Regions from separate parts of the Homo sapiens genome. Here region 2 is linked to region 1. Evidence: fine-mapped QTL for protein levels in blood plasma. Region 1 holds a variant in brackets. A gene starts in the other region. All regions are shown on their forward strands.

Region 1 (15,726 bases):
AGAACAGCTGCCCGGGAAGTGCCTTTCCAGCAAGCAGTGCCCGGAGCTGGCCACCCACTTCACGTAGCTTATTCCAATCTAATTCTCACAGCAGTCCAATAGGAAGGGGATGATATTCTCACTCTGCATACGAGAGGTTTGCAAGCTCACACCACCAGGATAAGCTGGAGCCGGGAGTCCTGTTTGGGTCTGTGACTCCCAAGCCCTTACCACCTGCACTTTCACCCGGCATAGAATGTTCTCGTCCTCCATCTGCCCCTAGTCCACCCACCCTTTAGGGACTGCCTCCTTCAACTGGCTTCCATGACTGCGACAGTGATTGCCTCCTCTGAGCGCCCGTAGCGTTGACTGGGCACCAGTCCATCCCACCTGGGAGTGGTAGATTTTGCACTTTGATTGCTCCCATCCAGCCAGAACAGAGGCCCCTGGAAAACAGGTCTTTAAAGTGGTTGTAGCTTTTCTGGCATGGCACACTGCATGCTGTAGGCACTCAGTAAATACTGTTTCACTGATTGATTGGCTCCTCAGACTCAGCACACTTCCCATGAGCTGGCGGAGGGAGTCGGGGAGTGCCAGCTATATCGAGCATAAAATAAGACAGATGTGGAGATTTGCAGCCGGTGAAATGGAAGCTTCCCCAGGTGGAGCTGGTGGCGCCGGCAGCCCCAGGGGTGCTGTTGGGGAGAGTTGCTTTTCGGTTTGGGGGCCGATCATGCCAGAGGCCAGCTTATTGGATGGGTGGTGAAGGCAGCCGTGGACTCCCACGTCCCGCACACTGGCCAGGCCCCCAGCCAGCCGATGACTGCCTCCTTTCTCCATCTGTGGGAAATTGTTCTTCAGACTCCAGTGGACAAATGGCCCTTCGGGTCAGAGTAACAGGACACAGTCGCTGGAAGTTCTGGCTCCAAGAAACCCGACTCCGAGGGTCCCTTCCCACCTCCAGAGATGAAGTCTTTCTTGCTTTTCCTGACCCCAGTTCTCCCCTCTCACCAGGCCTCCGTCTTGGACACTGGGGCCTCTTCTCTATCATGCAGAGTAACCTAACCACTCACATGTGTCCAGTACCTTCCACGTATTTGTTACGCACTTTTGCCTCTGTGTGGTTTAATCCATCCTCAGAATGACCTGGGAGGCTCTTGAAACTGGCACAGTCTCCGTTGTCACATGGGGAGACTGAGGCACAGAGAGGCTAGGGGACTGTCTGGGTCACACAGCCGACATGCTTCGGGTCTGCAGCCCAACGGTAGTCCCGTTCTCACCTTGTCGGTTCTCACTTTGTCTGTGTCTCAGAGCATGGGGTGGGGACCTGCACTGTTCCCAGGTCCATGGACGAATGTGAGAGCAGCGCCAGGCTAATGGGCTTTCCTTCCTTTCCAGCTCTGTGGCTGTGGGCTGCTGGGAGTGGGCATCTGGCTCTCCGTGTCCCAAGGCAACTTTGCCACCTTCTCCCCCAGCTTCCCTTCGTTGTCTGCAGCCAACCTGGTCATTGCCATAGGCACCATTGTCATGGTGACGGGCTTCCTCGGCTGCCTGGGGGCCATCAAGGAAAACAAGTGCCTCCTCCTCAGCGTAAGTTCTGTCCAAATCCCCAGCCCCTCCAACTCCTGATCTCCTTGCACTTGGACCCCTGGGACAGGCAAGACCTGGAATATTAGCCACCTGGGTGTCCAACCTGAGCCCAGGGAAACTGCTTCTAGAACGTTCTAGGCTTGACCACACCCCTCCTCCTCATGGTTGGTTATGCCTACCCCTGGTTGTCCCTCCCACTCCCTGATTAGTCAGCTCCTTTATGTCTCTGTCCTAGCTATCTGGGTTTCCTCAGGAGGAGCTGGCTTCTCCCAGACCTGGGAAGCCCCACCTAGGCGCCGCCTGTCCCTGCCTTCCACACCCTCCTTGTCCTCAGCCCTGCCCATTACCACCTACCCATGCCTGGCCCTTTCCTTTCCAGTTTTTCATCGTCCTGTTGGTCATCCTCCTAGCAGAGCTGATCTTACTCATCCTCTTCTTTGTCTACATGGACAAGGTAAGCCTTACCAGATGGGAGGGGGCATATGGAATGTCACTGCCCTTAGAGTTGGGCCAAGCAGGCCAGGGTCCCTTCCCTGGCCAGAGGAAGAGTGCTGGCAAGCAGCACCTGTGCAGAAAGGAACATGGAACCAAGGGTTGGGAAAGCTACCAAGGAAAGAGCAGATGGAAGGTTTTGATGGGGGCAGCATGGGGCAGGCAAATTTGGAGGATGGGAGAGTTGACTTTGTATAGTTCCAGGAAGTGGAATCCTCTGCATGACCAGAGATGGCAGTGGGCTGCCTCTGGCGCTAGTGAGCTCCCTCTCACTGGAAGGAATTAAGCTACTTGGAGAAGGGATTCAGACCTCATCAGGTGGTTGGGCTGGGTGATTTGAGAGCAAACCATGAAAAACAAGGAGGAACTCTCTGGGCGACGCTGGCTGAGCAGGACTGAGGCACAGGGAAGCTCTGTTTCCTGCACTAGAGCCCTTGAGGACGGGCGCTGCTCCTGGGTTCAGGAGGATGGTGGGTGACCCCCTGTAACCTCGCCAGGCTGGGCAGTTCGCAGTCAAGAGCGAGGTTGGCCGGGATTTCAGTCTCTTGGGGCGTGGCAGGCCCTTTGGTACCATGCACTCCAGAACTGTGTAAGGAGCAGTTCTTGAAATAGCTGCCTGAGCCACACTGAAAGTTAGAGACATCGTTAGGATGAGAAAGAATAATCTTTTAGTTTTGCACTCGTGAAAAGGAAGAAAGAACAATGTTGAGAGATTTCTCTGTGCCAGCCCTGTTCTTGGCCCTTTTATGAGAATTGTTTCCCTTAATTCTAACAACAGCGCCATGAGTAGATGCTGCTGTTCAACATCGGGTAGAACAGCGGTGAGGGAGGTGAAGGTCACATGACCTGTCTTCCTCCCTCTAGTTCCCAGGGTGTGTTTTGAGAGGGGCAGTCTGTGGGGAAGCTGTGTAGTGGGGGGCGGGGGTGGCAGAGTGGCCTGTGTGTGTGGCTGGTCCTGGGATGGGGGAGTGGAGGCACGTGGTGTGTTTTTTTGCCTCTGGGTGTTACAGCCCTGGCCCTGAGTTTAGCTCTGCCGGGAGGCGGTGGGTGCACCAGGGCCTGCTGTATTCTGAAACTGGGAGTGTGTGCCTAACCCCGCACCTCTGTTGGGCCAGCAGAGGCCCCCACCCCAGTGGGCAGGGCCTTCCAGACCAGCTGCCTTCCCTGCCTTCCTCACTCCTCATCTGTCACCCACCATCCTGGGTGACCTGAGGTGGGCTGGAGAGACGAGCTGCGTCCTGGTTCCAACCGTCTCACTGTGTCCCTCCGCCTGGCAGGTGAACGAGAACGCCAAGAAGGACCTGAAGGAAGGCCTGCTGCTGTACCACACCGAGAACAACGTGGGGCTGAAGAACGCCTGGAACATCATCCAGGCTGAGGTGCGGGCTGGGCCGCCCTGGTGGGGCCAGGCAGGGAGGAGGGGTGGCGGCCGGTACTTCTAGCTGCCTTCCCCGGTGACCTGGCCGGGCACCTGTGCTTTCTGGATTTTAGCCGGGAGTGGAGTGGTACCCACGGGGGCATTTGCCTGAACTGCTGAGTCAGATGTGATACAGCAAGGTACAGCCAGGGAGGGATGAGGATACAGGAGGGGCAGGCCTGAGAGAGCTGTGGCTGAGCTTTGGGATGAATGACTGAATTTATTTTAGCAACAGATTTGCCTCCATGATGGGGCTTGGCTTAGGTGAGGAGGCCCTGGCTCTAGGAGGAGAACAAGTCCATAGTCCCAGATGCTCCCATTTTAAGCCCTGGGGAGGGGCCGGCAGGGGGTTGGGTGGCAGTCAGCTTGGGACGGTTTACAGAAAGAGCAGAGGTGCTGGTGGGCAAGCACAGGGCTGAGCCAAGGGGCCCAGCCCGAGGGGTGGGCTGCATTGCCCTCTCCCGCTCTGGTCTCCAGGAAGGAGTGCTCACTCACTTCTCCAGTGGGCCCGGCTGAAGCCCAAAGAAGGGACAAGAAGCAAGCCCTTTGTCTCCTCCCTTAACTGCAGGGTGGCCACTTTTGCGGGGACTGGGGTTGGCCTGGGCAGGGGAAGGCCCTGGGGAGGAAGGGGCGGGCCATGGCATGTCTGACTGCCCCTTCCATTCCTGCTGGCCAGATGCGATGCTGTGGTGTCACTGACTACACAGACTGGTACCCAGTGCTGGGGGAGAACACGGTTCCCGACCGCTGCTGCATGGAGAACTCCCAGGGCTGCGGGCGCAACGCCACCACGCCTTTGTGGAGAACGGTGAGGCTGGGGATGGACCGCTTGGGTCCAAGAGCCCGTGTGTGGATGCCCCGGCACGGGGAGCCCTATAGGGGAGGCTGGGCCCGGGACACTAAGAGGTTGGCTGAATGTGGCGGTGGGGGGCTCACAAAAATAAAGCCAAAAGACAGGTGGAAAATGGGGGGTGGGGCTGGACCCACAGTTGGGAGAGTCAGAGGGCGAGGGGTTGAATGGGGTCTGAGGCTCTGCAGCTGGCCTTGCGGGTGGGGCGGAGGCTGCGCCAAGGGATGGGGACAGGGCTGAGGCCAGGGAGGGCTGGGAGGTAAGAGCGAGGACGAGGTGGAAGGAGAGAGTGAGCTGGGGGCTGGGCTGCAGGGAGCGCATGCTTGGGCTGGGACCCTAACCTCGTGGGCCTCGCTCCCCAGGGCTGCTATGAAAAGGTGAAGATGTGGTTCGATGACAATAAGCACGTGCTGGGCACGGTGGGGATGTGCATCCTCATCATGCAGGTAAGAGGGGCGTCCCCAGCAGCCTCACCCACCCTGCTGGCCTCAGCCTCAGAGGGAAGGAAGCACAGAGAAGTGAAAGCAGTGTTGGTACACGGCGGAGGGTCTGGAATTCATCACAGCTATTCAAGCTTAGCAGCTGTGCCTGCCACCGTTTCCGCAGAGCTCTGATATGAGAGCACGTGTCTACTCAGCACTGAGAGTGGTGCTCAGGGCTGCCTGTGGCCAGGCCCAGGCTGGGATATTGAAGCTGGAGTCAACCCCCGTGGGTTCCCCCAGTTCTGCCCAAACCTTGAGCTCAGAGAGCCATGCAAGACACACACGGTGTCCCCCGGTCACCATCTTTACAGCCTGTGCACATGGCACACTCTCTGTGGTGACCGTGAGACCACACCGGGCTTCCTTCTGCCTCCTGCACTCCTCTGGGTCCCCGGCTCCTTTGAGGATTCAGGAGGGAAGGGGCACAAACGAGTAGTGACGTGGTCCTGAGCACACATCACTGGAAAGACAGCCCTGCTGCTGCCAAGACATCGCACCATGTGTTCCACAAGCAGACAAGAGAGGCTTGACAGGAGTCCTTTATTTTTCTTTTTTTAAGAGACAGGGTCTCACTTTGTTGCTCAGGCTGGAGTGCGGTGGCGCCGTCATAGCTCGCTGCAGCCACAAACTCCTGGGCTCAAGCCATCGTCCCACTTCAGCCTCTCAAGTAGCTGGGACTACAGGCATATACACCACCATACCTGAATGATTTACAACTTTTTTCCAAAAACAGATGGAGTCTCCCTCTATTGCCCAGGCCGATCTCAAGCCATCCTCCCACCTTGGCCTCCTAAAGTGCCACCGTGCCCGGCTGGCCTGAGTCCTGAATGATCCCTGCCACCTCCCACTCCCCACCTTGGCTCCTGTGAGCCCCCACGTAGAGCCAGGTCCTCCGTGCATTCCGTGCCTGCAGCGCCCCTCTGAGTAGGCACACGTATGCATCCTGCAGAGGTTCGATGGCTTCTGGTCTAACAGCCCCACGAGGCTGAGCCAGAGTTCACCTGTGTGTGTCTCCAGGGTGACCTCTGTTCACGGTTTTCTTCATGTCTTCATTCCATAAGCATTTTCCTGGCACACCAGTGGCCATCCCCGCTTGCTCTAGGTGCCCTGTGACATCCCAAGCCTCTCGGGGCTGAGGTCAGGTCCAGGCTGCTGCAGCTCCTGCCTCAGGCCCCTCCCCGTGTCTTTCAGATCCTGGGCATGGCCTTCTCCATGACCCTCTTCCAGCACATCCACCGGACTGGTAAGAAGTACGACGCATGAGCGGGCTGGCCGGGAGTGCCCACCCCGCCCTGCTGCCCTGTGGAGGGAAGAGGATTGAGCTTTGTGTC[A/G]CCTGCCTGCGCTCTCCAGATATGACCCCTGCACCCACCCCCCACAGCCTGCCCTACCCCACCTACCCTGCCTCAGCCTCGGACTTCTCAGTGGGTGGAGTGCCAGGGAGGAGGAGGCACACGGAGACCTGGGGCTCGGGGCCCCTGGATTCCTGCATCTGCATATGCGTATTTGCCAAAGACGACAGGGTGGGCTGGGGTGCGCTCCGGAGGAACCCCCGGCACTGATGGGCTTCTGCCCCTGCCCTTCCTCACACTGACACTTTGTCCCCACATGGGGTGGGGAGCAGAGTGCCCGCCCCGTGGAGATACCGCCCCAGCGGGGGCTGCGACATCCATGGCCACCATGGGGCACCTGGCGGGGCGGGGGTCTGCCGGCCTCTGGGCAAGGCCCCTGGAGCATCTCGCCCAGGCTTTTTATACCTTACAATGTAACTTTTTTATTTTATTTTACTCTATGATTATTCAGGAATATTATCTCTCAGATAAGTTTAGGGTTAGATTTCTGATTTGTAACTTTTTACTGTGTTGATTTCTTTAATGGTTTGACTTTTTTTCCCTGAGGGTGAGGGATGGGTGGGAAGAGAGGACATCTGTCCAGTCTCAATCAGGACAGACCACCGTGCGACACCCAGGAGGCTCTCGGATGGGGCGCGCCTGCGCCCTCAGAACGTGTGGGAAGGAGGGGGCGTGGACAGGACACGGGACCTTGCCAGGCCTGGTGTCTGAGGACAGGAGCCTGGGAGAGGCGGGTGGAGCGTGAAGCAGGCTGGAGGTGCCCCTGCACGGGAGGTGGCGTTTGCTAACCAATCGAGCTGGAAATGCCAGGGCAGGGGGGCCCCACGGTGCTGTGGCAGAGCTAGAGGGGTCCTTAGACTTTTCACTGATGAGCAGTTGTTGGTTTTTTCTTTCTCCCTTCCTCCCGCTCTCTGCTGGCACGCGAGGCTTCCCCTTCCACCCCATGTGGGTATTCCCACAACAGGTTCTGCACACCCCAGTTATTTCACAGACATTCCTGCTAGAAACTGTCAGACAAATACCTCTCTAGTTCGGATGCTGCTCACTTTCCCCCTTGCTTCTGGAAGGGGAAGCAGTCCTTAGGTTTTGCTGTGCTGGGACAGTGGCAGGGGACCCACAGGGGTGAGGACCCACGGTCCTCCCCGCCAGCCTTGCTCAGCTGTGGGTTGCCCTGCTGGGAAGGAGGGAATCACGTCCACCTGGGTCCCAAGATCTTCGCCTCCTTCCCTGGGGCCACGGACATCAGCAGTGGGTTGGGTGGCGATTATATCATCTGTGATCCCAAGGAGAAGAAATACAGAAAACCCAAGAGAGGTCAGACTGGCTCTTGTTACCGGAGCCACGGGAAGAAAGCAGCCGGAGTCACGCACGTGCAGAGCTGGGCATGGGAGAGAAACGGGCTGGGGAGTGAGGCCAGGAGTGGGATTCAGCTGCAGCAGGGCGCCCCCTCCAAACTGCAGCTGGTCTGGCTTACTGTTTTGCCGTTCAAAAAGGTCGCGAATCCGTGGGACTGAGCACGGGGACCTCACCCGCTAGCCAGCGTCTGCTGCACTTGATCAGGTGGGGCCTTGGTGGGCGGCTGCCTTTCCTATACAGTTTGTCTTGTCACCCTGGTTTCCCACTGGGGCCAGGTCTCTTCTCCAGCCTCCACCTGCCTGTCTGATCCAAGAGCTGAGACACGGCCACCCAGCACCAGTCACTCCTCTGTTCACCTTAAGTAACACACAAATCGGGAACAGGAGGACAGAACCGTTGGCATTATCAGGATTCGTGTTTTGTGGGGGTGGGAGTGGAGAGTAGGGTGGTCTTGTGAGTTGTGCAGGGTGAAGACCGCTTCCCTGAGACAGGGGCAGTGGTGCTGATGGAATGTGGGGGAGGCCCACATTTGAGCAAAGCTGCCCTGCCCTTGTCCCCTGGCCTGGCTTCCTGGTAAGGAGTTTCAGCCGCCTCCGCAGGAACCCCCAAAGTGCAGATTCCGGAGCAGACACATCCGGGCGGAGAGACTCAGCAGACAAGTGCTGCAGTTGCACGGTGGGACCCGGGGCCTCGTGCGTTTTTTGCTGTGGGTGGGGTGGGTGGGTTGGTTTATGCCTATCAATGCAATTTTTAATTTTTGTTAATATCAACAGCAAAAGCCTAGTGCATTGGGAGATGTGCAACCTCCCTGAAAATCTTTTCTGTTTCTGGAGTACTTCAGGGGTGGCCTCTGGCCCCAGAGCCTTTGCCACAGTGCTCCCACCAGCCCCCACCTCATCCGTCTGTTTGCAGAGCCTCATCTACAGGTCCCCACGCTGCCTTCTTTACTCACTCTGCGCTTGGCCGTTTTGTTATTTGGCTTAGTCTACATTGGGCGGAAGTCTGTGTGCACAGAGTGGGTGTTCCTTCGAGCCCCTTCCACTCAGAGGGCCACACCCAGCGATGCCAGTGAAGGTGGCACAGCCTCTCTTCAGTTTCTCCTGACTGTGATCTCACTGGGGTAGAATTCCCCTGAGAGAATTCCCTCACTCACGGCTCCCTTTGCCAGAGTCAGTTCAATCAGGTCTGATGTGAGCAATTTACACACTTGTCTCAGAAAGTCCCTCAGGGTTTGTAGAGGACTGCAGGGGGGCATCCGCTGCAGACTCAGCCTTTCTCTGCAGCCATCCTGCAGTGGGGGTGAGCGGGCACAGGCTGAGAACTGCTCTTGGGTGGTGGAAGCAGGTGTCACGGTGCAAGTCTCCCCCTGCACCCCTCCCCCAGCTTGAGCCGTGTCACCCCCCTCTCCCTCCAGCATGGGCCTGTGTCTCAGGCTCTCTGGAAGGTGGCCCTGCCCCGGACCCTCTTGCAGGTGTCCTGGTTTGACTTGGAACTAGATGGCCATCTTTCCAGGCTTTGGTGGCCCAAGAGCAGTCTGGGTGGATGGAAGTGGCTGTCCCCTCCTCTCCAGCCCCTGCCCACCCACTGGTGGAGGTGCTAACTAGCAGGGACGTGGCATAGGATGGGAGCTGGGCGTGAGGTGCTTGGGGTCCATTCTTTGTCCCTCAGCTTCTCAGAGTCCGGCCAGCCCTTGTGTTCCCGTGCCCCACACTTTCCTCCTCCCCACTGCAGTGAGTCAATAGTCCAGGGTGGGGCCTGGCCTCCCTGCCCTGATTGGGGACTCAGGAGGTGAGGCCTGGGGGGCTTCCTGCCCCCTCCTTGCCCACCTGCCTGCCCCCGGGCAGCACGGGAGGGAGAGCAGGGTGAGCACGCTTGTTGGTTTCAGATGCACTTTCTGCTTGCATTGCCGTATCTGTGCGTTCCTTCATCCTGGTCCTGGCTTTATGGAACACCATGTTTTTAGCATGTTTTTAAATAAAAACGGATAAAGTGTCAAAAGCACAGCAGGCTGTCTCTCAGTGGTGTGTTTTGTTCACTCAGCCAAAACTGTGACTTAGGTCGTGGTTGGTGTGAGGGACCCAGAGGGATCAGATACCACTCCTACCCTTCATCCAAGACACACCCCCAGGGGGACCTCATCTCTCTTTTGGGGCCCAGGTCACAGATCTGCTGGCGTGGGGAGGGTCTCTGTCCTCTCTGGGTGCCTGAGGAATCCTAACATCCCCCCTCGAAACAGGCTGGATCAGGGGGCAGTCCCAGTGCCCGAGGCCTTCTGCCTGAGAGGCTGAAGTCCTGTCTCCGTACCAATCACCCATCACACATGGCCAGTCCTGTGGCCAGGCCCCGAAGTGTATCGTGGGGCGGGTATGGAATAAGCCACTAGCAGCTTCCAGTAGGGTAAGGGGCTTCCTGTAGGGGTGGGGGCTGTCAGTTTCAGAAACAGTCTTCTTCCCAATCCCTGTGATGTTCCCGGGGTTCATTTGACCTTGATGTCTCGGACTGAGGGGGCCTCACAGTGTGTCTTGGCCTTTTCAGGGTGACTGGGACAGCCTCAAAGAAGGAACAAAATCAGGATGAGGATGGTCAGCAGGGAAGGCCATTAAAACCGCGAGCAGGAAGAGCTGCTGGCTGGGCCACTGACGTTGCCGCCTTCCTGCAGTCGAAGTCTCCCGCGGCCTTGGTTGGGGTCCTGGTGTGTGGGGTTTCCTTGGCTGTCAGTCAAGGTGACAAGTTGCAGATGAGAAGCTCAGAACTCCCCTTGCTGGTCCTCACTGTGTTCATGTCCCCAGGGTGGAGGCAGGCGTGAGGGTGAGTGTGCATGGGGGTCTGAGAGCAGTTGGAGGTTTGGAGGTGAGCATCTTGAAACCCCTCTGCCTGTGGAACTCCATCTCCCGCCTTCTCAAGGGAGTGGCCAGGTCCACACAGAATTATCCCAAAACATCAACCTCTGGGGCCCCCTCCTGCAGCTGCTGTGTCCCAGAGCCTCCAGAGACGGTGCCTTGAGTCTGAGCCACCCTCTGTCTAAGGTCCAGCTGGAGTGATGTCCCTGGGAACCTCCCCAGGATATTTACCGAGAGAGACTTTGTGGCTGTAGGGTCAGGATTGATCGTGGCTGAGGAGCAGGTGACCCCCTCATCGTCTGCGGAGGACAAACCAGCTCATAGGAATTTGGGTGGATGCCACCCTGTCTCTGCTCATTCTTACTCTCGCTCCTGCCCCCAGGCCTGTTGAGATGCCCACTGGGTCACTGTGCTGTGTTTTGGGGCTTCCAGGCAATGGAACACACTGGCTGTTCTCTTAACCCTCGGCTCTGGTTGCCCTGGCTGTGCGGGAGAGGAGCATCTTCTTTGGGACTTCTAGTGACGAGGCTAGCACCTCTGGGCTGGGTCTGGGCTCCTCTGTCTAGGGAGTGGCTGAGATGACCCGGGGGGGGGGGTCCCTCCTTTGCGCCCCCATTCTTGTGTGTTGTGATGGAACTGCCTCCCCATTGGTGCTCAGCAAAGGGCAAGTGAGAAAGGGTGGCTTCTGAGCCCCGCCAGCTTTCCATGGGGCCAACAGTGGCGCTTGCACAGACAAATGTCTGTTTGCCCAAAGACTTACTGAATACTCACTCGTGCCAGGCACCTAGAACACAGTCGTGGACGACACAGACCCAGTCCCTGCACTTTCAGAGCCGACCATTTAGTGGGGACCCCAGAAGAGTGCCTGTGATTGCAAGTAAGTAGTGGCAGCAATGTTCACAGGGCACTGGGAAGCCCTGGGGGACAGTCACTGGCTGAACCTGGGGAAGTGAGGTCTCCAGAGCAGGTGATGTCAAAGCTAAGAGCTGAAGGTGGAGGTGTTCACCTGGCAAAGAGAGGCAGGAGATGTGTCCTGTGGATGCTTGTGGTCCACAGAGCTGGAGCACAAAGGGTGAAGGTGAAGGTCTGGAGATGGTGGTGACCACCAGATCACAACCTTGAGAACCAGGCCAAGGAACTTGAAGTTCAGGCTGAGAACAGTGGGAGCTGTGGAAAGGCTTTAAGCCCAGGTGTGACAGGCTCAGATGTAGCCTTTAGAAAGCTGGCTGTGGCTGCAGTGTGGAGAGTTTTCAGGGACAGGGGAGGCCACCGGGGGACCAGGCACAGGTGCCGCAGTGATTTAGGTGACAGACGATGGAGCCTTAGGGAAGGGCAGTGGGATGGAGATGAAGCCGGAAGATTTGAGAGATGCACAGGAGAATCTGCGAGCCTTGGTGGTTAATTAGATTTATGCAAAGAGAAGGAGCGTTCTTGCCACTCGCCCAACATGACACCCTCAACCCAGACAGGCAGATGACTAATTGTTTGCATCAAATGGATGGATGAATGTGTTTTCTGGGCTCGGTGCTTCTGTGCAGGAGATGACAGAGATCAGCATGGTGCAATTAAATCTCTTTGTTTGTGTTGAGCTGCACAGCTTGCAAAATGCTTCCATAAATGTGATCTAGGCTCCTCCTGACCAAAACGGTCTTATCAGCTGTCACTGTGCTTAAACTTTCACCATCAGAGATGCACCAAGGTGTGCATGGGAGGAGCACTGATGTGGGTGCCAGAGGACCCGGGTTAAACTCCCAGTTTGCATTTGGTGTCCCTGTGAGCCTCGGAACTTGTCTTGGTTTTGTTATTTGCAAATGAGGATAATGCCTATTTTATAGATTTGTTGTGGGGATTAAATAGAGACATGTATGTAGAGGCATCCGGCTTGTTCCTGGAGCAGGATAGGTGCTTGGCAAGAAATTGGTTGAACCTGGGTCGCCACATGAAAGGCAGGACCCCAAGGAAGAGCAGCTTTCAGCCCAAGGACACAGGAGAGCGGTCTGGGAAGGGGTGCTGGTGTATGAAGGGAGAGTGAGCTGCCCGCAGGGGCTCAGGGAACAGGTTTCCCCATGCCTTTGTTTTGCCCTGGGCTGGCTCAGCAGCAACACTCAATATTCCACAGAAGCAAGAAGGAAGCCAGATTAAATAAATGTCATTTTGGACACAAAAATATTGACATTGCGATGGTCCCTTCTTAAAGCCGTCAGCAAAGCTTGGTAGGCTATTGATTTAGCCATCTCATTTTTGCTGAGTTTAATGACAGGAGCGAGATAGACTATTGTCTCCTAAAGCTAACAAAAAGAGTAACAGCACTCCACAGGGCACGCTGGAGCCAAGCCCTCCTGATTGAAGCTGACGCCCTGGAACCTCTCCTTTGCAGCCCAGAGACTACCAGGTAGCTGAGAGCCAGCTGGGGCAGAGCTGGGCACTGCCTCGTTTTCCTTGGCCCTATGTGCAGAGGAGAGAGGTGAACGGGGACATGAAGGCCGCACAGTGGCCTGTGGCCGGGTCTTGCGGTTAGCACCTGTTGCCCGGAGATTTTTCTTCTGGTTACTGAGTTCTGGAACAGCCTACAGCAGTGTCCAGAGCAAGGCCAGGCTAGCTTTGGTGGTCGAGGGGAACTGCAGCCCACATGCTCTGATTTAATGACCTCAGGAAGCTCATTGTCCTTTGCCTCCCTACTCCCACCTCAACTCCTCCACTCAATTTCTGGAATCAGAATACAGTTGGTCCCTAATTTATAATGGTTCAGTTTATGATTTTTTGACTTTATGATGGTGTGAAAGTCATAGGTATTCAGTAAAAACGCTTATCTCTTTCTTTCGAGTACACATACAACCATTCTGTTTTTCATTTTCAGTGCAGCAGTCCATAAACGACATGAGATACTCAACACTTCGCTGTAAGGTGGGCTTTGTGTTAGATGATTTTGCCCACTGTGCGCTAATTCAAGTGTTCTGAGCACATTTAAGTTTGTCTAGGTTAAGCTGTGATGTTGTAGGTTAGGGTTTTTTTTTTTCCTGAGACGGAGTCTCGTTCTGTCACCCAGGCTGGAGTGCAGTGGCGTGATCTGGGTTCCCTGCAAGCTCCGCCTCCCGGGTTCACGCCATTCTTCTGCCTCAGCCTCCCGAGTAGCTGGGACTATAGGCACCCGCCACCACGCCCAGCTAATTTTTTGTATTTTTAGTAAAGAAGAGGTTTCACCGTGTTGGCCAGGATGGTCTCGATCTCCTGATCTCGTGATCTACCCGCCTCGACCCCCCAAAGTGCTGGGATTACAGAAGTGAGCCACCGCGCCCGGCCATTAGGGGTATTAAATGCATTTTTGACCTATGGTATTTTCAACTTATGATGAGTTTATTGGGATGTGACGCCTTCGTAAGTCAGGGAGTGTCTACATGTTCTCAATATATTTCTTTTCTCTGGCAAGGGACCCTAGTTCCTGAAAGGACTCAGCCTTCTTATTTACCAGATGGCCCCTCCAAGAGAGTGTGTTGGGTTTGACCTCTGGCCTCCAACTCAGGGTTCTCTAAAGGAGGATTAGAGATTCCTGAGCTATTCTCAATATTTTAAAAGTCCCAGCGAAGTTGTTCCTCACCCCCATCATGGGAACATAAACCCTTTGGGTCTGGATGGCTGTGTTATGCCCTTAGTGCAGTGGCATGGTTCGTACCTTGCTAATGGAAAGGGCTGGGTTCCCGCCTCACTCTTTCCCTCCTCTCCCCTGGTCTGGTGCAAAGCCTCCCACCGGATGCTCCGCAGGTCCTCTCCTTCCTGCTCAGGTCACTGCCAGATAGGGCTTGACCAGTGGCAGAAGCAGGAGGAAAAAGAAGTAGGAGCTTCTTGTGTGTTTGCTTTTTTTTTTTTTTGATACAGTTTCACTTTGTTGCCCAGGCTGGAGTCCAGTGGCGCAATCTTGACTCACTGCAACCTCGGCCTCCTGGGTTCAAGCGATTCTCGTGCCTTAGACTCCTGAGTAGCTGGGATTACAGGCACCCGGCATCATGCTAGGCTAATTTTTGGTATTTTTAGTAGAGATGGGGTTTCACCATGTTGGCCAGGCTGGTCTCGAACTCCTGACCTCAAGTGATCTGCCCGCCTCGGCCTCCCAAAGTGCTGGGATTACAGGCATGAGCCACCACACCCGGCCTCATGTGTTTGCTTTTAAGAGGAAAATGGCTGTTGGCCCCTGTGCCCTCGCCTCCCCACCAGCAGCCTCACTCTTTTCAGTTGTGGAGAGAGAATGAGAACCAGGGTCCCCAGCTCGAGGCACCCTGAGGCAGCAGTGACAGCCCAGCTGGGGCTGACATGAGGCATCAGTACCTGCTAGGAAGTAGTGGCAGCTGACAGGCCAGCCGGCAGCCACCAAGGCACAGCTTCAGCACAGCTTCTTGCTGCCTGCCCGGATGACAAGGCCCAGGGCTGTGGGGACAGCAGTCACCAACCACTGACAGTGCTGTGCAGCAGGGAGGGTCCTGGAGTGGTACTTGTTCCTCCTCGGTACACACACACTCTCAGTGATGGTGGAGGTGAGTAGATGTCCAGGTCCAATGGGACAGATGACGGTGAGCGTGCCCTGGGCTGGCTTCCTTCCCCTGTTCAACATCCAGACAGTCAGAGGCTGCTGCTGTGGCCGTTGAGTGAACGACTGAACATTGGCCAAGGAGGTCCTGAAGACACAGGAGAGCGGGGCAGGGCTGGGGCTCTCGTGCGAAGCGGGTCCCCGCTGGACCTCGGGTGGATCCACCTGTTCACACAGCACGTGGCCAGGCTGCGTCGGGTTCACACCACACCAGGTGTGCGGTTCCATTCTCAGCTGCCTCCCAGGCCACCCCCACCCCTCTGTCTGGGGATCCCCTGAGTTCCGCTTACCCGGGTACTCTTCAGGCTTCCCACCCCACCTCAAGCAAGTTTTCTAGACAGAAGAGTGAATGAGAGAGAATGAGTGTCCATGTCATAGAAGGGAAAGCGTATTTCTTTTTCCTTGCGCTGGGCAGCCTGATGGCCTCAGCAAAGATTCGTCTTTTTGCATTGAGATGAAAAGGTGTCCAACTCTGGATCTGGGGATGAGGACGAACCAGCTGGTCCAAGGTGGAGAAACCCTGTCATTGTGGAGTGAGGTCGTCTGGGGGTCCAGGTGGCAGTAGGAGTGTGTGTCTCAGCCAGGGGGAGCCCCATTGCTTGTGACCTCTCCCCACACTCTGCCTCTCCTGCATCCAGGCAGAGGGCCGTGCACGAAGTGGGGAAAGGCTCACCGCAGATTTCTTAACAGGCTGGTTGCGCATCCTGGTAAACGGTGTGAAGATATTGACTGACCAGAGACAGAAAGCTTTACAAGGAACACAATTCAAGTACACATGTTTGAGCCTGGCTC
Region 2 (15,726 bases), not on the chromosome of region 1:
CACGTAGGAGTTTGTTAAAATGCGGTCTCCACCCTGGATACTGAATCAGAACCTCATATTTAACAAAATCTCTAGCTGATGAATGAGCACATTAAAGTTCGAGAAGCATCATTAAGAAAACATGAGAGGGCATTACATATGGTAAGAGTAAGTGTTGTTTCATGAAACTTGTTCTAATTATATACTTACAAAGATAAGAATTTGTTCATAATGAAAAATGTACTTCTTACTGTGGATCATATTAAAACTTTTTTTGGGGGAAAACACTAAGCTAGGGGAAATAAACGGATGAATTTGGAATCCCATTGTTGCCCCTTTCAAAGTAAGAATACTAGGATTGCCTTAAATCTGTGAAGACATGTTACATGAAGAAGACAGAAAAGTACTCCTAACTCCTGATACAGGGTCCAAGGCTGCAAATACAATTTCCTCATCCATTGTTCTGCTCTTCCCTTTCTTCCTCCACTACCTTTAAAAGACAGTGATCTTTTCAAAAACCTGGACAAGAGTCATACTGGAGAAGGGAGCATAAAAAATATCTAGGACTGGAAGAAGAAGACCGAAATGAAGGCATCTGGGAGGAGACTCATGGGCCAAGAACCCCACCTTTCTAATCCTCTATGTCCCTTGGCTGAGACCTATGGCTAAAGACATGACCTCTTCCAATCTTGCCTGCATTTGTGTTGTGGGGAGAGATAAAGCTGTGTACACACAAGAGCTTTAAGGCTCCTGAACACTTTTTTTTCAGTGTAGATTTTCAGTGACTATGAGGAAAAAGTGTTTAAACATAGCATAATGGTGAGATTTGAGGAACCACAGTAAGCAATCAGAAGACCAGAATAAACAGATGTAGTTCTGAGGCAGGTGAAGTGGTAGAGAGAGCATAAGCTTTGAAGTCAGACCCAGGGTCAGTCCTCCCTCTGCCACTCACTAGATATGGGATCATGGGCAAGATAATTGATCTCTCTGAGCCTTCTTTTTCTTACCTGTAAAGCAGGAATAATTATACATGCCTCTTGTTGTTAGAATTGAATGAAGTAAAAAAAATGATAACCTTCTGCCATACTTATGAGTTTACACTCTGCTGTAACCCCCACTTCTATTTTTTTAAGTGGGAAGAAGGTAAACTCTGTGAACTCTAGTCTATTGCTGTAACTAAGCAAGCTTTTAAATCATAGATTTAGAAGCATAATTTGAGAGCACTACTGAAAGGAAATTATGGGTATAAGAAGCCAATCTTGTTTGCTAAGAGGTAGAACTGGTAGGGTGACTTAGTTTTCTTTATTCAAAATATTAGCAGACAGGTAAATGGAACAAATGAGAATATCTCTGGATTTATAAGGTAATTGAAAAAATATCTCATAAAATCCTTGTGGATCAGATGAAGAAAGCAGACTGGATGTAATAATAGAATTGTAGAATTTATCAGCAGTTGAATGACTGTACTACAGGATGTGAATAAATATAAATGGAGAGGAAAGTCTCCGTTAGAATATGCATTTTATTTCTATCTGCTTCTACATGTCTAATAATTATTTGTTCAAGAGCATCGTGGCTTTCTGATCAATTCCCAATATCATGATTTCAACCTGCCTAGCTAATATACTAGGAAAAGAGTTAGCTCCACCAAGCCCTTGACAGGTTCTAAAGATGGACTGCATATACAAAAATGGAATTTGATAGACCTAAATGAATAGTCTTATAATATTACTATGAAATTCTCAACTAAAAATACAAATAATATTTTAAGATGTCAAGATTAATAGCAAATATGAAAAATAATTGGAATTTTAGTAGATTATAAATTCTATGTTAACAGAGTGATATAGTTACCACCAACAAAAAAGTCTACTTAATCTAAGATTGCATTAGTTATGTTGTAGTGTTCAGAATAAAGATAGTAAAAATTAGTAAGGAAATAGAAGACTTGATGAACAGTGTCAACTAATGAGACCCAGTTGACATTTTTAGAACAATCTACCCAATAGCAGCAGCAGTTGTACATTGTTTTCAGGTGCACATGAACCATTCACCAAGAAAGACCATATTTTTGCCATAAAGCAAGTCTCAGCACATTTAAAAGCAGTGAAATAAGATGAACTATTCTTGCTGGCTGTAATAAAATTAAATTAAAATAAATAAAAATATATCTGAATCCCACTACTGGGTATTTAATCAAAGGAAGTGAAATCAATGTATCAGAAGGATACCTGTGCCCCATGCTTATTGCAGCACTATTCATAATAGCAAAGAGATGGAATCCATGTAAGCATGCATCAATTGATGAATGGATTAAAAAACGTGGTATATACACAAAGTGGAATACTATTCGGCCATAAAAAATTGGAATCGTGTTATTTGCAGCAACATGGATGGAACTGGAGGACATTAAGTGAAATAAGCCAAGTACAGAAAGAGGAATATCACATGTTTTCACTCATATGTGGGAGCTAAGAAAGTTGATCTTTTGAAGGTAGAAAGTGAAATAATGGATACCAAATGTTGGAAAGAGTGTGTGAGTGAGAGGGAGACCTGAAGAGAGGTTGGTTAATAAGTATAAATATTCAGTTAGATAGAAGTTGTAGGTTCTAATGGTCAGTAGCAGAGAAGGGTGACTATTGTTAGCAGCCATGTGTTGTAATTTCAAAGTAGCTAGAAGAGAGGACTAGAAATGTTCCTAACACATAGTAATGATAAATGCTCAAGGTGATGAATACCCGAGATGCTCCCCTTGTAACATACTCTATGCATGTAACAAATTTTCACATGAATTCTGCAAATATGTAAAACATTATGTATCAATAAAACAAATACCTAAAAAATTCCCTGAAATTTGGAAATTAAATTACAGTGTTCTATATAACCTATGGGTTAAAGAAAAAATATTTTGAACTATATAAACAGGTTATCAAAATTTGTGGAACATGGTTACAGTAATTATTAGAGAGGAGTTTATAATTTTAAATGCTTGTATAAGAAAAAAATCTAAAAATCAATAAGCAAAAATTTGACTTTAAGAAATTAAAGAAAAAAGAAGAGAAAAATAAATCTAATGTATATAGAAGGAAGGAAATAGTAAAGGTAAGAGCTAAAATCAACAAAGTAGAAAATGTGTAAGTAATAGAAAAAAATCAATGAAACTAAAGCCTGATCCTTTGAATTGATTTTTAAAAATTGATGAACTTCTAATCAAAGAGATAACAAGAAAATAAAAATGCAGACCAATAATTTTAATGAGTATAGACACAAATATCCTGAACAAATTTTAGCAAATCAAATCCAACAGTATATCAAATATATAATACATTACATGGACCAAGTAAGCTTTAACCCAAGAATGCAAGGCAAGTTTAATAAGCAGTTCAGTTAACTAACAGAAAAAAGGAGAAAAACCGTATAATAATTTCAACTGATACAGAAAAACATTTGACAAAATTAAATAGTCACTCATGGTAAAATAAACAATTTCTAGTGAACTATAAATAGAAGGAATTTCTCAATTAATAAAGGGAGTTTAATGAAACTTACAACTAACATCCTACTTAATGGTACAAGACAGATTGCTTTGGTTTATGATGAGCAACAAGGATGGGATACTAAATTTTAGCATTTGTATTCAATGTTGTACTGGGCATCCTATCCAGTGAAATAAGGCAAGACAAATAAATAAAAGAAGCAGAGCATGTAGAAAATCCTAAGCAAACTGAAAAAGAAAAACTACTAGAACGAATAAGTAAATTTAGCCATGTTGCAAAATGTGAGGGTACTGCACAAAATTCCACTGTATTTCTCCATACTAGCAATGAACAATTGGAAACAAGAACTCAAAAATAATTCCATTTATGAAATATTAAAAATAAAATACTTAGGGATTCATTTTTTAAATTGTGTGTAATACTGCCATGTTCAAAGCTACAAAATATTGCTGAGAAACATTAAAGAATACCTAAATTAATGGAGAGATAAATGTTCATAGGTTAGAGGAATCGATATTTTTATGTCAGTTCTCCTTAAATTGATCAATGGATTCAAGGCACTCTCAATTAGAAAAGTGAATTTTTAAAACATTGACAAGCAAATTCTGAAATTTACATGGAAGATGAAAACCAAATAAAAACAAAAACAAAAGCTGAAGAGTTGAACAAATTTTGAAAAAAAATAAAAGCACAGTTGGAAGACTTATTACATCTAAGTTGGAGTCCTATTATAAAGTTATAGCAATCTGAACAGTATGGTTTTGGCATAGGAATAGAAATATAGATCAAATGAAAGGAATAATGAGTGAATCCTGAAATAGACTCACTCATCTATGGCCAATTGATTTTCAATAAAGGTATCCAGTTACTCAATGGGAAAAAAGATAATCTTCTCAACAAATGGTGCCAAAACAACTGGATATCCATGTAGACAATAATGAACCTCAGCCCTTACTTCATACCATACACAAAGGTTAACATCAAATAGATTGTAGACCTAAATATAACAGCTAAAACTATAAACTTCTATAAGAAGCCATAGAAAATCTTCATGACCTTGGGGTAAGCAAAGATTACTTATGTAAAACCTAAAAGTACAACACACACACACAAAAACACGCTTGATAAACTGGACTTTATCAAAATTAAAAACTGCTGTTTGAAAGACACTATTAAGAAATTGAAAGACAAGAAACAGACTGGGAGTGTATATTGGTTATATACATATCTAACAAATGCCTGGTATATAAAGAACTCCTACAACTCAATAATAAGAATCCAAAGACTTGATTAAAAATTGGGCAATAAATTCAGACACTTTATCAAAGAACAGGTGGCATGAGAGCACATGAAAAGCTGGTAAACATCTTTTATGGTCACCATCATTAGTCAGTAAGGAAACGCAAATTAAAACCACGATGTGATACCACTATATACTTACTAGAATGGCAAAAATAAGAAGACAGAAACTACCCAGTGTTGATGAGGATGTGAAGCAATTATCATATCTTGCTGGTGAGAATGTAAAATGTTTTCCACTTTGGAAAGCAGTTCATCTTTCTATATAGTTAAACACACAGTTACTGTAATAATAATTTTACTCCTGTAAGATAAGAAAAATAATAATGTATGTCCACAAAAGGACTTGTTAAAGATTGTTCCTAGCAGCTTTATTCATAATAACCCCATATTGAAAACATCCCCAATGTCCATCATTTGGTAAACTGGCAAACAAATTGTGGTATATCCATACAATGGAATACTACTCAGCAATAAAAAGGAACAAACTTCAGATACAGGCACAACATTAATGAGTTTCAAAAACATTGTGTGGAGTGAAGGAAGTCAGACACAAAGGAATATGTAAGTGATTCCATTCATATGAAATGTTAGAAAAGACAAATCTAATCTGTAGTTACAGAAAACAGCTAAGCGGGCCAAATATGAGGTGGGATAGAAGTTGACTTTAAAGGGGTGCAAGACAACCCTCTGAGGTGATGGAATTGTTCATTATCTTGATTGAAGCAGTGGTTACATGGGTGTGTACATTATTCAAAACTCATGAAGCTGTATAATTAATATGAGTGTAATATATGGAATGTAACTTATCCCCCAATAAAGTTGATTAAAAAATTAAAAGGAAAGTGGGGCAACCAAGTTTCATAAAGCAAAATATCTTTGGGTAATAAGTGGCATGAACTAACAGCCAATTTCCTTAGAAAACAGCCATATGGATTAATCACCTCTAGAATTATTTGTGCCTGTGCTGCCCAGATCAAAGTTCCAACTCCTGGCAGAGAGGGCCTGAGGGGCTTAGCTGAGGTCAGTTGCTCTCTTCTGGACAGGGAAAAGCTGGACCATCCTGACTGACCTTCCACCCAGACTGCTGTCCTTGTGGCAGGGATGGTATCTCAAAGAAAAATGGAGGTACTGTTACCAGAGAAGGGGCAATGATGACTGCTAAACAAACAAATAAACAAACACCAAAACAGTCTTCCCCTGTGTATTTCCAGGGAGAGTAAAGAGGATGGTGAGGGGCTTCAAACATATCTATGTTCATTCATTCCATTCATTTATTCACTCAAACATAATATGGAGTCTGTACTATTTTCCAGGAGCGTTATTGAGTAGGGACTCGAACGCTCTTGAAGTCTCTCTAAAAAGAAAGAGTTCTTATTAATGGGAGGAAGAGAAGCCTGGTAGGAGATGGTTACCTGGAGTGGTTATGGGGCTTAAACCTGTTTTTGTTTTTTTGTGGGGAGAGGGGGATAGAATTCAACGACACAAGAAAGAACTTTGCAGCAGTCAAATTTGTATCTTTTGGGGTCCTGTAAAAGCTGGAAAACTCTTTAGTCTGGAAGAGGAAGATGGACAGTCAGAGAAGCAGATTCCAGAATTCATGTCCTGTCTAACCCACAAATGGAAAAGCCCGTTCATGGTTTTAACATTCCATCACTGGGCCTCCCGGGGCCTCCTCGGCGAGTCGGCAGAGGGAGCCATTCCCCAATAAATTGCCGCGCGAGGCCTCCGAGGACCTGGGGGGATTTTCCTGCGCGTCCGGGGAGTTCTCTCTCCGCCCCTCCATGGTAAAGCAGACTATCCCACCCTCCACCCTCTGCCTTCACCTCCCCGCCCCACCTTTCCATGTACTTTGCTGCCACATCACATTCTCTGGCACGGCTTAATCACCATCCTTTCTGGGTCCCACCTTTGCGCTTTCTCCCCTGACACCACTGAGGACCCGCCGTCCACTCCAGTTGGCCGCTCGGGCGCCGGCCACCGTCCCACAAATCCTTACAGAGGGTCTAGAACACCTCCCAGGGACTCTGCCGAGGGACTTGCACCCAACGTGGGTTGGGAATCAGGCGGGCACCCACTCTGACACCCCTTCGGTCACCCCCTGCGGTGACCCCAACATTTGCTAACTTCGCGACCAGGCCTTTGGCGGGGTCACCCACCAGGCGGTGGAAGCCGCTCAGGCAGGGGCGACTCACGATCGAGGTGCAGCAGTCAGGCCGGGAAGATCCTGCATGTTGCGCTAGGGACTGCGCGCGGCGCCAAGCGACAACCCCCCAGCGGCCACTGCCCCGGCAGCAGCAGCTGCAGCAGCGGCAACTGCTCGAATCCCGGCCCCGGCTCGGGTTACCCGCCCCCACCCCCTCCAGCATCTCGGGCCAGACAGAGAAAACCTTGTTCAAGTTTGCAGCAAGTACTTTCCCGGTGCGCAAAACTGGGCGACTGGGAACGCGTTGAGACGTTCCTCTTTCCCGCTTCTCCACCTTTACGCCTGAAAGAAGACTCCCAAAGATTGCTTTCTTCTGGGACGCTGCTTGGACGCTAACCGCGTTGATTGGAACAGATTTTGTGTCTTGGCTGGCTTTGGGTGAAGACCGGGGAGAAAAGGTTGCGCTGCGATTCTCAAGATCTCTGGACCTGGGTAAGAGTTGGGCAAACTCAACTCCGGCGGCTCCTGGACCTTGGCCGGACGCCGGAAGGCTTCTCATGGGCGGGGGTCACATTTTCCTTAGCCAGGGTACCGGGGTGCGGCGTGAGGTGGGGCGAGATGGGCTCAGTCTGCGTTGTTCATGCGCTTCTTAAGGGTTTATTGTTGTTTGCATTTGGTTTTGTTACATGGGATTGTGTAGGAAAATCCTGGAGTATTTTTGATGGAGAGACATCCTCATTACGCATTTTATTTTGCATAATTCCTGCCCTTGTATTGCCTTACCTTGTGTTTGTTTCATTTTGCCGGGCGATATAGCTGGATGTAGGGAGATTTGTGGGGAATCGGACTGAGCTTGAAAGGCAGTTTCAGCTGGGCCCTTTCTTCTAGGTCAGTTGAACTTCCTTTCTGGGATCTTCACTGTTTTCTAAACTTCTCTTTCTCCCGTCCTTGGTATTCAGATTGTGCAGATAACGCTCTAGGCTGGCGGGATGCTCCCCTTTCCTGAGTTCTCAGCGATCAGTAGGGGTGTGAGGTCGCAGTCTTAGACCAAAGGGGCCTTGTCAGTATGCTTGGCTCCTTAAGGAGTGCTGGGAGGGACGGTTTTTCAAGTGATAGTTACTTAAGAAAGATAAATCCGGTGTTGATCTTTTTCTTTTAAATTCCTTGTTAGAGGACTTTTACGCCTGGTTTAAGGAAGTGTTTTGGCCTTAATTTTCTTTCTGGAAGTATTTTTCTTAGTGACACCACTGAGCAAATGAATGATGGCAATATCTTTGCTGCTTCTTTAGAAAATATCCTCACGCAAGGACCCACATTATTTAGGAGAAAGTCAAAGTTGGAGATCTTATTAGCCAAAATTAGCCATTATTATTGTTCTTAGGCTGTGATAACCATGCTGTGCCAAGGCAGAAGAGAATGACATTTCTTCTTGTTCTTCTTGCCTTACTCCTTTATATCCTGGGTCTCACTTTGTGTATAGGGTTCCCAAATAAAAATGCTTCATTCCTTATGGACAGAAATACTGGGGCCAATTTATATTATCCAGAAATGTCATCTTCCTGACACGAGTGCTCCAAGAGGTCAGCTTGCAGGGAACTTTTAATTTTACCACTGAGAGTTCAAAGAGTTCAGTTGGTAAACTCTGGGCACCCGCCAGCCTGGGTTCAGCTCACAACTCTGCCACTTTTCAGTTCTGTGATTTTGGGGTAAGTTACTTAATCTGTTTATCCACATATGTAAAATCAAAATGATAATAATAGCACTTACATCAGACAATTGTTAAAGGGATTAAGTAAGTTAATGCATGTGAAGGACTAACAAGCCTGACACATAGTAGGCACAAATTAGCTTTATTATTATTGTATAGCTAGCATTAACTATTGTTGTATCCCTCTAGTATAGCTTCTATTAGCTGTCAGTAAGTGTTAGCTATTATTCCTATTTGGATGGACTTTGAAGACTGTGCTCATCTGTAAGCTTCACTACCACCTATTGTCAAACTTAGCTCAGACATGATCTTTGTATTGCTTTTTTGTTGTGGCACTTTCAGTTGGAAAAATAAAGGTGTATATGGCAGAGCTGGAATTTATAGGGTGGTGGGTCATGGATGGGCACCAAAGACTACTTGGAACAGGTGAGGAGGTGGGAAATCTACACTCAGTTCACAGCCTGTATACCTCCTTGGAAATCCTTTACATTAATATACTTTCTTTAACCTATTTTTTAGAGGTCACTCATTTGTTCAGTAAGTATTTATTAACCATCTATTACATGTCAAGCACTGTTTTAGGTTTTATATTTTAAAAATGGCTATGCATGAGTATTGGCTTTATGTGCCTCCTCCCATTTCAAGTGTGTGACCTAGCACTCTATAAATTAAATCCCAAGTATTTTTAGCTACACAATTTCCATACCTGTTAAAATGCTCATAAGAGCACATAAAAAGCACGTATCATTGAGAAATTGAACAAAATATTCCCTATGACCTCAAGCAGATTGCTTTTCTCCATTTAGGCATCAGTTTTATTATGTATAAACTTGTGTTGAGAGGTGGGGAAAGAGTAGAATAACCTCCAGTGTTCCTTCTGGCTCCAAAATCCTTAAATTAGCTGCCTTACTTCATTGGTGGCTGTTTTTGAACCCCCACTTTTCTCTTTTAACATTTGTTTTAGGTACATAAATTACGTTACTTCCATCTTTGCATATTCATCAAAGTGAGTAACAACATCGATAATTAATGAAAAGGGAAAAGCGTTTATCTCTGTCTGTCTTTCACTATTCTCAGACTTTGGTTTATACCAGAAGCATGAAGTGGGGAGATTTGTTAAAATATTAGAGTGAACTATGAGAAATTGCTGATATTTGACCATTTTTGACCTAAATAAATGGCAATTTTGTATGGTTCAAACTATACAAACCCTAATCCCTTCTGCCTTGATTTAGAAGTAGTAAGTCTTCTGTGAGTTGTGAGAAGTCTGCATTTTTACAAGTTCCCCAGGTGATTCTAATGCAAAACTCAAGTCACATGCTCATTTAGCAGCAGTGAATTTACCTTCTTTGTGATTGTCTGCTTGGTTTAATAGTGTATTTCTAAAATGCAAATCTGATCATGTTATTCCCTTGTTTAAAAATCTTTGGCAGCTCTCTGGATGGTGAATGTCAGTGTTACCTGGGTGCATGTTGAAAATATAGATTCCAGGGCTTCACCCCAGAAGTAAGGGCCAGTAATCTGCATTTTGAGATCTCCAGGTGAACCTGGTAAAGCTGACGTCAGATCACATTTGGAGAAACACTGGCTTACAGCATAAAGTCTCACCTCCTTACCGCTATACACAAGACCACCTTTGCAGCACTTCTCAGGGTTATTTTCTGCTTCTCTGGTCCCCAGCTCTCCAGCTCCCACTGATCTTGATCTTGTTACTATCTCAAGAATACGCTGTGCACTTTCACTCTTCCATGACCCAGCTGTATATGCTGTTCCTTCCTCTGAAAATGTCTTTGACCCTCTTTCCTGTCTAACCAACCACTTACCACCCATTCATCTTTTAAGACACTATTCAAATCCCTTTGAAGACTTTCCCTCTGAAGTTTTTCCCAATTATCTCATAAACTTAGCGATATCTCATGCGAGTTCCCATTCTTGTGGATAGATTTAATATAGCATAATCACATTGTATCAGCCATATTTATTATCTGAATGTTTATCCCTAACAGATTGGTGAGTTCATCATTCCTTATTGTAAGCTCTTATACAAGTGGCTGGCCCATAGTAGTTATGGAATAAATGCCTAGAGAATGTTGGAGAAAAGTAAATGGATGAATGATAGTCAACATTTTCTTAGCAGACAAAGTGGTTGGGACAGTATTGTATACATATGGAGGGTGTGGAAAAGCCAGTTGGGAATTTCCAGTTTGGCTAGACATAGCCTAGGAAGTTAATAACTTCAAGTGGGGCTGGGCATGGTGCCTCACGCCTGTAATCCCAGCACTTTGTGAGGCTGAGGTGGGAAGATCACTTGAGGCCAGGGATCCTAGACCAGCCTGGCCAAAATGGCGAAATCCTGTCTCTACTAAAAATACCAGAATTAGCCGTGAGTGGTAGCACACACCTGTAATCCCAACTACTTGGGAGGCTGAGGCACAAGAATCACTTGAACTTGGGAGGCAGAGGTTGCAGTGAGCTGAGATCGCGACACTGCACTCCAGCCTGGGTGACAGAGTGAGACTCTGTCTCAAATAATAATAATAATAATAATAATAATAATAATAATAAATAACTTGGAGTAGAAAAAGGACAAGACAGAATATCCTAAGAGGACTTATGAAACACCAAATGCCACTGAATTAATGTTACATGTTGAACATTATTGCAGGCAGTATAATGAAGAGCTGAGCTTATCCTTTAGGATGGTTTTGGTTTGGTTTTTGGAATGACGTGTCAGAGCACTGGAAAGGAAGTGCCAATGCCAATAAAAACCAACTTTGCTCTGTGCTTTTCCATTTATAAAACACTTCTGCTTCTGTTTTTGTATTTGATCAGAAACATGGTGACTGGTTCAATACTGTCTTTCCTTCTTTCCTGAAAGGACACATTCCTGAAAATAGGTCTGAAGATTGTATAAAAGCCTACATATTATAGGGGATTCTGGCCATAGAAAGCCAAATATATTATGAAATCTCTAATTATATCTTGCTATTTAGACACAGCATTCAGTGTATACTCCATTTTCTAATTTTTCTTTCTTTAAACTTTACACAATTTTGGTTATTTTCTCCTCATTTCAATAACAGTTGACCAGCTCAAGTTCAATAAATGTCTGATTCAGATGAAAAGATTTGCCATTTTTGGCATGTCTAATAACTTCTACCTTTGTCTTACTTAGTTTATGAGACAAACACTTCTCATAATTACTATTAGGCTTTTAATTTTCCCATTTCCCATTCACTTTTTTGTAATAATGAAAATATGCAGTAACATTTGAATAAGTGAATGAATAATTCTCTGGGTAATGACAAGGATGGTGATTCTGCAAAAATTGAACTATTGGCTTAGGGCAGCTGCACCATAAAATAAACAACATAAAAAGTTCATTCATTAGCTGGCATCTGAGTGTCATCATGACACAGGGCAGGGAGGTAGTAGCATCAATAGATGTAGTACAAATATCCACATTGATGGACTTCAAACGAAGCAATATTGAGGACTGCCTTTACTCTCAGTTTCTCAAGGGTGTGTACCCAGTATCTGGTTTTAATAATTAGTTTAGTTTTAAGAATTAATACAAGATTCACTGGGTTCTGTTGATTTGTCTTCTTTTAAAATTATGTTTCTGAAATGAACTTTTTCTAGCTTAGCATAAGCCTGTATCATTTTCTGCCAACCTTTGGAAGTCTTTTAACTGCTCTCCTAATCTCTTTATTCAGTCATTCATTCATTCTTCATATCTGAATGTCCTGAAATTTTTAATTTACCTTTTGTCTCTCTTTACCATTTTGCATTATTGTTCACCATGATCATTCTAACTCTTTTTAAATATAGTTATTGCAGAGGACTAATTTAGAGCATTTAGTAAAAGGATTTCTCATACTATGAGGGAAAAAGAAGGTACAAACCAATGTTATTTTACTTTATAGAACTTTATTTGTGGAATGGCAAGTCACTGTGTGGATGTTATTTGATAATGCAAACTCTGTGGCATTAGCCAATCTGGAAAGTGTGAATGTGATAATACATCCTGTTATTATGGTTGTTCATTTCTAGTGATTTCCTCTCTTATTTCATTTCTAGTGATTTATACTCCTAGATAAAGAAACTATGTAAAGCATTTAAGCACCTCAATTTCCTACTTAGAGGGCAATAAATTGTACCCCTTCCCACTTCTAAGACAAAGAAAACAGTATTTCAGTATGGAAAACCTCATCTTGATAGGTACATGTGCAGGATATTAGCATCTGTTAAAAACATCTTATCTTTGGGAACATCCTAGAGGATGACTAAGTGCCTTGTCATTAATGTCTCATCTGACCCAGATGAGCTGTACAGATTTGGCTGTTTCTCAACATAGCCACAGGTGGTGGTTCCCAAGATGGATCTTTTGAATACCTTCTGCTGAAGAATTTTGGCTTTCTTAAAAAATAATTTTTGATGGCAAATTGAAAACTAAAACACACAAATTTAACTTGTTCCTCACAGAGTGAAATAGAACTATGAAATTTTTGCTTGGTGGCACAGAAGACTAATCCTACAATCAAAACAAAAAAATTTAAATATCCACCCCTATTGACATCTTGAGAAAAGTACTTGAGTTTGGATGAAGAATTGATAAAAAATATGTGACTTGGTTCTTTAAAAAAGTAATAGGTTGGAGAGTTACTTTTTGTTCCACCAGTTTTTTTTGTTTTGTTTTGTTTTGTTTTTTGAAGTGGAGTTTCATTCTTGTTGCCCAGGCTGGAGTGCAATGGCGCAATCTCAACTCACTGCAACCTCCGCCTCTGGGGTTCAAGTGATCCTCCTGCCTCAGCATCCCGAGTAGCTGGGATTACAGGCATGTGTCAACATATCTGACTAATTTTTGTATTTTTAGTAGAGACGAGGTTTTGCCATATTGGCCAGGCTGGTCTCGAACTCCTGACCTCAAGTGATCTGCCTGCCTCAGCCTCTCAAAGTACTGGAATTACAGGCATGAGCCACTGCACCTGGCTGTTTATCAGATATTTATTAGCTGTGTAGGGCATAGGGGAAAATACCATGTGTAATTACCAAGAAGCTCTTGCCTTCGAGGAAAAAACAGACTAAAAAAGTACACATTGCATGCCCATATAAAATATCTCATGTAACCCATAAATATATACATCTACTATGTACCCTCAACAATTAAAAAAAAAACAACAACTGAGCAGGTAAGCCTGGGTATAGTAAGAGCCAAGTGGCAGTTTTGAGAGCTGCCACAAGAGCTCACTGGAGGCTTCCTGGCAGTGTGGGACCTTGAAGGAGAGATTTGAATGGATGGGGCATCTTAGGTGGGGGAATGGGCTCAGCAAACATGTGGTGGCAGGAATTTACAAAGCATCTTCAAGCAATAGTGATTAAACCATTCCATAGTAGTGGTGAGTTTACATTTGAGAATAATTTTATAATAGGCACTTACAGGACCTGCCCATCCCCATAGTACTATCTGCGTTAAAGGAACCCTTCACATTACACTGCAGTTATTTTATAGAAACTAGATGGGATTAGGGGGACCTATTGAGATTCAAGTAAAAATTGGCTAGAAATCTTCCTCCCTATTCCATGAGAAGGTGTAAAATGAGAAAACTGTTCTTCCTTTCAACCACTATGGGATTCTTGGGGCTAGAGACGGAGACAGGGCTCATGTTTCTTCTAGTGTCACCTGGATCTGAATTCATATTTTCCCTTAAGAAGTTTAAAATGATCCGAAGCCACTCACCCAGCCACGAATAACCTTCACTTCATAAAATGCCACCAAATGTGTGGCTTGAGTGTTTAGAATTTTAAGGTTTGGGACTATGGAAAGAGTTCATATCTTAACACTTAGAACTAAATGTTAAACATCCTTGCTTTCTAACAGTTCATCCTACCATTGCCACTTTCTCACCGCCCATCTTTTTCTGAAGGCTACCACCTCCACCAGGTGGCTTCAGCGCTGTCCTGCTGTCCCTGCACTCCTCCTCTCTTGCTCACTGATGACCCACACCCACATTCCTATTATCATCTGAAGCCCTCATCGTTCTCACCTGTCTTCGTCTCAGGTGTTTTTCCCCCAACACTAAGATTTGATAACCACAGTATAAAGTATTTGTCCTTCCAGTATCCTCCCTGCTTTCAGCTGGTTCCTTAAACAGATGTGCAAAATCAGACCATGAGTGAGGTTAGAAATGCTTGAGGCATGTTTACCCTGTGCTCTGACTTCAGAGGCACGAGAATCACCTGCAGATACTGGCTCCTCCCTAGATTTTGATTCGGTAGGTGCGTAGTGGGGTCCCAGGATGTGTATTTTTAACAAGGTGTGCTGATGCAGGTGGCCCATATATGCATGATAATCCTTGTTGGACTTATAGTGCCCCATTCAAAAGGCATGCCTTTTTTGTGTGTTTTTAAATTTTAGTGACTTGGCCAGAGGGGGTCACAGAGAATAGCTGGTCTGTGAGAACCCATGCCTCTCCTCTCTACTTGAAGGGACAATGGCTGTAACACAACGCTGTTCATGTGACAGCCGGAGTAAAGGACCCATTGTTCAGGGGTTGGCTGATGTGCCATTCTGCTGCGGCCAGCCGTCCAACTGAGCTTGGTAGCCCCAAGGAAACAGACACACTTAAATCAGAGAGACAAAGAAAGGAGGTCAAGGCCTTCCACAGTTAAACTACTTGCAGCAATGTGTCAGAGGTAGGATCTGGGAAGGAAAAAAGTAATTCCAAGGAAGCATCATTAATCCTCTGGTTTTGGAGCTGCAGACATGGCGTTGGGGGAACACAAGTCTGTCAAAAAGCCAGTGGATCTTTGGCCAAGGAAGAATTATTTTCTACTGCGTCACACTGATTGCAGGACTTATCTGATTGCAGGATTTTATTACTGATTTAAAAAATAAAAAAGCCTCCCTGTGTCCCCAGGCTCATCAAAGGTACCTGATCTGAAAGCCTGCCTAAATCAAGGTCTATGACTTCAGAGAACAATTCTGTGTTCCTGGGAATGGTCACTGTGTATATATTAATAATTCCCTTCCAGATCTAGATAGCTGTTTTGAAGCTAAGAATTTTTTGAGTCTGAAATACAATGAGTGCCATTAG

Direction of the effects. Positions count from the first base shown, and alleles are read on the strand shown. Strength reflects both the effect of a copy and how common the allele is.
In carriers of allele G in region 1, the plasma level of the protein whose gene starts at base 7,153 in region 2 tends to be higher than with A alone (weak association).

What was found. A credible set is the group of variants that fine-mapping cannot tell apart. PIP is the chance, under the fine-mapping model, that this variant and not a neighbour inherited with it causes the effect. Protein levels are from antibody-based Olink assays in UK Biobank. Linkage for the fine-mapping came from a reference panel and not from the study's own genotypes, which makes the PIPs less certain.
Region 2: MEGF10 starts here. The variant in region 1 is the best candidate, but not a certain one, in a credible set for the plasma level of the MEGF10 protein (UK Biobank, PIP 0.53).

Annotation. Positions count from the first base shown.
Region 1 is chr12:3,277,044-3,292,769 of GRCh38, forward strand. It overlaps TSPAN9 (tetraspanin 9), which reads left to right. Exons shown (of 9, transcript NM_006675.5): 4 at 1,378-1,569; 5 at 1,949-2,023; 6 at 3,339-3,440; 7 at 4,155-4,286; 8 at 4,691-4,774; 9 at 6,002-9,516. The coding sequence ends at 6,073. Among named protein-coding and RNA genes, the nearest start is that of LINC02827, 15 kb to the right of the region's middle. RefSeq lists enhancers at 7,183-7,683, 7,684-8,184. The variant A/G (reference allele first, on the strand shown) is at 6,142.
Region 2 is chr5:127,283,644-127,299,369 of GRCh38, forward strand. It overlaps MEGF10 (multiple EGF like domains 10), which reads left to right and starts at 7,153. Exons shown (of 25, transcript NM_001256545.2): 1 at 7,153-7,413. LOC105379199 reads right to left here and starts at 7,093. Exons shown (of 4, transcript XR_007058921.1): 1 at 6,935-7,093.